2 linked regions of the Homo sapiens genome follow. The protein of the gene in region 1 interacts with the protein of each later gene in a biochemical or structural test. Each region holds a gene or a part of one and is shown on either strand. Other genes may lie near its edges.

Region 1 (4,038 bases):
ATCTCGGCTCACCGCAACCTCCGCCTCCCGGGTTCAAGCGATTCTCCTGCCTCAGCCTCCCGAGTAGCCGGGATTACAGGCATGCGCCACCACGCCCAGCTAATTTTGTATTTTTAGTAGAGACAGGTTTCTCCATGTTGGTCAGGCTGGTCTTGAACTCCCGACCTCAGGTGATCCACCTGCCTCAGCCTCCCAAAATGCTGGGATTACAGGCGTGAGCCACTGCACCAGGCCGAATTATATCATTTTAATTATACCTAAAACTTCAAATTTTATAGTTCAGACCTATGAAAGAGATAGCTAAGTTTTGGAAACTCTTGCAAACTAATTTTTTTATATTAGTGCGTGTTTAATGTAAATTAAAAACAAAATTGCCACCTATCTCATAGAAGAAGCTGAAATTACCAACGGGAATGCTGTAGCACAAGCTCCAGTAACAAAAGGTTGCTACTTAGCCACTGGAAGCAAAGATCAAACCATTCGAATCTGGAGCTGTTCTAGAGGCCGAGGTAAGATTGATCTTTCTTTTGTGATGTAACCTATGTTGATCTGGTGGAAGTAGAGGGTTTTCTGTTCTTATTGTCCTGAGGGTGTGTCATCTATTTGAGAGCAGTTCTTCACTTTTTGGTCTAGAATTCTGCTTCCTCATTTGAGCCTGGCCTAGACTCTCTATTCTCTCAACATCTGGCCTTAGAGATTAGTATTTCCCATGCATTCCAGGAGAAGACAAGGATCTCTTGCTTTATAGAAGGGTCAGTGTTTGGCATGGAGAGCAGAATATTTGTAATAAAAACAGGAATATTAGAACATGATATGGCCTAAGCCAGGAGAATGGAAAATATCTTAAGAGTTAGAGCTTTTAATGCACAAATGCAGAATAAATTACATACACCCAGCATAGAATTATGTGTAAAAGCTCATTTTATCCAAATTATAGAGCCCCTCAATCATTTAGCTTTCCCAAATGTCTCTTTGAACAGAACTTTTATCTTTAAGTTTAAAAATTGAGAGAAACTCTAGGCATAATGAATATTTATAGTATATCATAGAATATAACCTTTATAGTAAAAATCTTGTTTTTCTCTTTCTAGCGGGCTTCTCTTCTTTCTTCATTTTATTTTATTTTTTTTGGCAGTTTTTTAAGCTGTGGTGGAAAATATAACATTTGCCATCTTTATCACTTTTAAGTGTACATTTAAGTGGTATGAAGTACACTCTAAAGTTGTGCAACTGTCACAGCCACCCATCTCCAGAATTCTACTCTCCATTTCCCCCTCCCCCAGGCCCTGGCAACCATCATTCTGCTTTCAGCTCTATGATTTTGACTACTCTGAGTATTTCCTTTGAGTGAAGTTATACATATGATATGTCTTTTTGTGATTGGCTTATTTCACTTAGCATATATCCCCGAGGTTCATTGATGTTGGTACCGTATGTCAGCATATCCTTCCTTTCTAAGGCTGAATAATATTCCATTGTGTGTATGTCCCACATTTTACTTACCCACTCATCCACTTGTTATAAATAAAATTTCGGTGTGGCAAAAGAAATAGCACTCAAATATAAAACTTTCTTTTTAATTCTCAGCAAGGCAATGTACTTCTATAGAAGGGTGCGCCCTTACAGATGGAGCAATGGTGAGCGCACACTTGGACAACGGAGGGGAGGGGTTCTTATCCCTGACGCATGTGGCCCCTGCTGCTGTGTCGTTCCCCTATCAGCTAGGGTTAGACCGCACAGGCTAAACTAATTCTGATTCGCTGATTTAAAGAGAGTGCCGGGGTAAGTGGTTTGATGGGAGAAAATGGTTATGGCAGGAAAAATGGTTATGGCAGAGCAGGAAATCAGAATGAGTCAGGGTGGAGCAGGTAATCGGAATGAGTCAGGATGGAGCAGGTAATCGAAAAAGGTTGCTTTTACGAGGAAGTTAAGTTTAAAAACAGAAGCCAAATAATTGAACATACTGACATATTGATTCTTTGAAGAGAAATTTAGAACTCATATCTCACACACTGATGGACATTTGGGTTGCTTCCATGTTTTACTATTCTAAATAATATGCTATGAGCATGGATGTACTTTCTACTTTATTTGAAACCATGATAGTTTTATCATATTTGCCCAAATGCATGTAAAGCAAGTAGCACAGCACTTGGAATGTCATCCAGGCTTCATCAGTGGTAGGTAACTAATAGTATAATTTGGGAAGACAGAACTTTTTTAAGGTTTACAGGCTACTTCTTGGCATACTGCAGCTAAAACTCCAAGTGGGAACATAAGGCTGAGGATCCCTCCAGGAGGGTAACCTCTAGACTTAGAGGTGTCTGGTAAAATGGCCTTCAATTGTGGTTGTGCAGCAGAATCAGCTGGAGAGTCTTTGGAAAAATGTAGGTTCTTGTACCCCACCTCAGATCTACTGAGTCCGAATCTCTAGGAGTTAGGCCCTGGCGTATGTATTTTTTAAAGTTCCACCTGTGGTTCCGATGCACAATACAGCTTAAAAAACGGTGATTAGAAGCATGTCGGGTGGAGGTACTCCCCACCCACAGCACGTTCACTGCCAAATTTTTCTTTGTTGGATTTCTTGCCGACTAGAAATAGTAATCCCAACCTCTGTCCTTTTCACTTTGGAGTTATGTCACTGCAATACTTTTGGGTACACAACTCAGCTGTGTTACTAGCTGGGTTCTCAGTTTTACTTGGGAACTCATTTTCCCAGACGAAAAAATACTCTTTTTCTTTTGAGGCAGAGTCTCTCTCTGTCGCCCAGGCTGGAGTGCAGTGGCACGATCTCAGCTCACTGCAAGCTCCACCTCCTGGGTTCATGCCATTCTCCTGCCTCAGCCTCCCGAGTAGCTGGGACTACAGGTGCCTGCCACCACGCCCGGCTAATTTTTTTGTATTTTTAGTAGAGACAGGGTTTCACCATGTTAGCCAGGATGGTCTCGATCTCCTGACCTCGTGATCCTCCCGCCTCGGCCTCTCAAAGTGCTGGGATTACAGGCATGAGCCACCGCGCCCGGCCAAAAAAAAAAAATACTCTTAATACGTTGAGGTTGTCAAGATAGCCTGTCGAAGCTTGTTTGACCTAAATGTAGCTAGACTAGTATTAACCAGTATTTATAGTGATTAAAATTATAACCATAATAATGGTTAAAATTGTAACCATTGGAAAATGAGATCTGAATTCTAAGTAGCCAAACTAACAAGCTTTTACAGCGCAGACTGTGTGTTATGAACCACCGGTGACTTCATGCATGTAGTTTCACTGTCTTGAGTGCCCACTGGCCTTCTTTTTAATCTGCAGGGGTGATGATTTTGAAATTGCCCTTTCTGAAGAGAAGAGGAGGGGGTATAGACCCAACTGTTAAAGAGCGCCTTTGGTTGACACTCCATTGGCCCAGCAATCAACCAACACAGCTGGTATCTAGCTGTTTTGGGTAAGTCTTTTTTGGTCATGCTTTCTCAGATATATTTTGTTTTTCTATTTGGCCTCAAGTCCTCCTAGGATGGAGAAAGTAATGGCCAAGGCTTGTATTATGATGGGCCATTTGAAATGGAAAAATTATGAGACTAATGCCTGTGCTATCTACTAACAGAGCTGTAAAAAGATCACATAAGTATAGTCCGGCAGTTAGGAATATGGACTCTGAAGTCAGAACTAAATTTCAGAATCACTTTGTCACTTACTGCCTTGTATTCCTGAGCAAGACCCTTTACTTTTCTGAGCTTCAGTCACTTCAAGTGTAGAAAGGGGAGATGGTTATAATATTTTCTCTTAGGTTGGATGGCTATGCCCATTCAGTAAACAAAGTTCATTGACTACCTACTTCTAGTGGCTGGAGATAAATCTGTTTAAAGGGTAGTCCAATATACTCACATGGTTCAAGAAGAACGAAAGTATATAATAAACTGTCTTTCTGTCTTCCCTAGCTACTTGGTTCCCCTTTCTGTGATTAAATTTTTTTTTTTTTTTGAAACAGGGTCTTGCTCTGTCACCCAGGCTGGAGTGCAGTGGTGCAAACACAGCTCACTGCA
Region 2 (2,679 bases), on another chromosome or scaffold:
TTATTATCCTTTCTTGTCCCCAGGAAAAAGGTTTAAAATAACATCATGATTCTAAAATGGTAATACCAATAATCAAATGCTACACATCAGTTATTTCAAAAATTTAGAACTGTATACATTTAATGTGTTAATTCCTCCTTTGCACCTAAAAGCTGATGCTTAAAATTGGACTTCATCTTAGAATTAAGAAAATAGATCAATTTATAATAGATACACTACTTCAGTCCCACCCACTGCCAACATACCAGTAACATCATCACTTTTAAGTAAACTCTTGAAGTACTCAAAACTATACATATTGACATAGACAGTAAGTCACCTTAACCAATTACCCAAGTTTAACTAGCAGATATTATGTACAGTATGCTGAGATTATAATAAACACAGAATTCTGATTCAGTATTTCTAGAATACTGAACAAGAGGTGTTTGTGGCATTGAGAGTACTGTGATAACCTGTGGTACCCTTTAAACTGCTTTAAAATTTTACAATGAAATCAGTGCTATTAATTTCATGTTTATTTCATACAGGGTTTTTGTCAAGTTTATCAGTTTTAAAATGATTAAGTCATAATCACCATTCAAAGACAAATTTTCCTCTCAAAATAATAATTTCCATTCTGCTACCTACAGTTTGGCTTATCCTTTGGTCTGATAGCCATACTTCATCTCACAGGACTATACAAGTATGTACTATGTACAAAACATTTTCAAGTTTGCTTTCAAATGATACCTACAAAGAGTAGATCAAGTTTTCAAGTTTACAGAATACCATACTACAACAATTTACCACTATAAATATGTCTTAACACCTGTTTATTCCATTCTATTTAGATTGCAACACTAACAAGATTCTTAATGCATATGTCCCCACCACCTGTACTTTCCCTACACTATCATTTTGACACTTAACATAGAAACAACTCAATTCAGCAACCAAGTTTTACAACCACTGTTGCTACCAATCAAATGGTGATGCATCAGATCCCAATTCTCATGAGTATTAACATATTAAGAGAGTACATTATTTACCTAAGACTGAATGACTGTGCCTTACTTTATAAAAAAACAAAGATAGCCACATCAATTTAATTCCATATATATGATACTACCTATTCAATTTATTAAAAATTGTAATAAACATAATAATCAAACTAGTGCTCCAAACTTATGCTGTTCACATGGAAGACACCACAAAAGAAGACATAATATAGAGACTGCCTTGCAATAAGAAGTACAAATTCCTTCTATAAAGATGGAGAAATAAAAGGACAAATCTAGTTGTCTAAAAGACAATTCACTGTACACATTTTATTTACAGTTTTGTACACTGTCTTAATATGAATGGGACTGCTTTTCTACTTGAGCCATTTTTAACCAAAGCAAAATAACCTAAGTAATACAAAGTGTTAAAATACAGCATAAAGATACAAAAACAGACATACTAATTCTAGTTAGGAATGTAATTATGATGTTACATTTTTTATAATCCACAATTATGTTTAGGAAATCACACAAACATAGATCACTGATTTGAATGAAATGCATAAATTTGTAGCAAAGCTTTGTAGTTACAAAAAACAAAAAAAATTACCAAAGAATGCACAAAATTAATGTTTATTCCACCTTTGTGTCATATTCCTGGATCCTTCACCAATGTTACATGAGGAAAAAAACAAAAGCAAAACAAATGAAAAACTGAAATCAGAATCACTAATATTATCAAGTAGGGAAACAAATAAATTAAAATCTAGCAGCCATCAGCAAGAGTACAGCAAAGACAATGCTGTAAAAAGAAACAAAGAAAATTGCTAGAAAACTGTATGCATCATAATCTTTCAAACCAGCAAAATATGCTTCTGCATAAAATGGAACAACAGAATTTTTTTTCCTGTAAAGTATAGAAATGCCAAGTTGTTTTCTGACTATTGTGGATAGGTAAAATCTGTATGTAATTAATGGTAATTCTACTGAACTATTACAGAGTGGGCCAGGAACACATTTATGGATTCTGGGGATGTGTACTGTAATTCTTTGATTGGGATAGTGGAAACTCTAGCCAAAAAAAAAAAAAAAAATGAACACAGAAGTACAAGACAAAGGCGAATGAGACTTCTCTTATATCTGAGTAACATTAAGATGGAAATCAAATTTAAATGCAGTCCACTCTGCTTTTTGAAGAGGCTTTGGTTCAGCTCCCAAATCTCGATTGCTTGACGCAGTCTCCTATGAGAATACTCAGAAGGTGTCTTCTTAAACAACAAACCTATTTTTAGTGGTGGAGCCGCTCTTAGTAGCTGTGTCTGCGTGGGACTGATAACCAATCACTATCTTTGGAGGAAGTCCTAACCTTTCCTTGTATACCCTCCTAGAAGAAAAAAAAAAAGAAGAAGAAAAAAGTAGTCATTAACTTTTACTCACAAGAAATACATTTAAAAATTTAGGGTTATTAGTCTTTATATTAAAAAACATAGACTTGAGAATAAAATAGGAAATTAATTATACACCCTTTTCCTTTCAGCACAATTTACTCTTCATTTTTGCGATATTCTTGGTTAATTACTTTTAAAATATTTGAGAGCGAGTCAGGTATGTTATTACTAAATTACAGGAGCATTACTATATTATTATATTGTTATTTATTATGATACTATAATTATTACTAAATCAACAGTGAACA

The links.
Region 2: the proteins of GEMIN5 (region 1) and EIF4E form a complex in vitro, tested with the Homo sapiens proteins (one study listed by BioGRID and IntAct).

Annotation. Positions count from the first base shown.
Region 1 is NC_000005.10:154,927,929-154,931,966, reverse strand, and holds part of GEMIN5 (gem-associated protein 5), read left to right. Parts: intron 1-389; coding exon 390-509; intron 510-3,307; coding exon 3,308-3,440; intron 3,441-4,038. UniProt on the Homo sapiens protein: The SMN complex catalyzes the assembly of small nuclear ribonucleoproteins (snRNPs), the building blocks of the spliceosome, and thereby plays an important role in the splicing of cellular pre-mRNAs.
Region 2 is NC_000004.12:98,878,776-98,881,454, forward strand, and holds the end of EIF4E (eukaryotic translation initiation factor 4E), read right to left. Parts: intron 2,368-2,679; coding exon 2,253-2,367; 3' UTR 501-2,252; downstream 1-500. UniProt on the Homo sapiens protein: Acts in the cytoplasm to initiate and regulate protein synthesis and is required in the nucleus for export of a subset of mRNAs from the nucleus to the cytoplasm which promotes processes such as RNA capping, processing and splicing.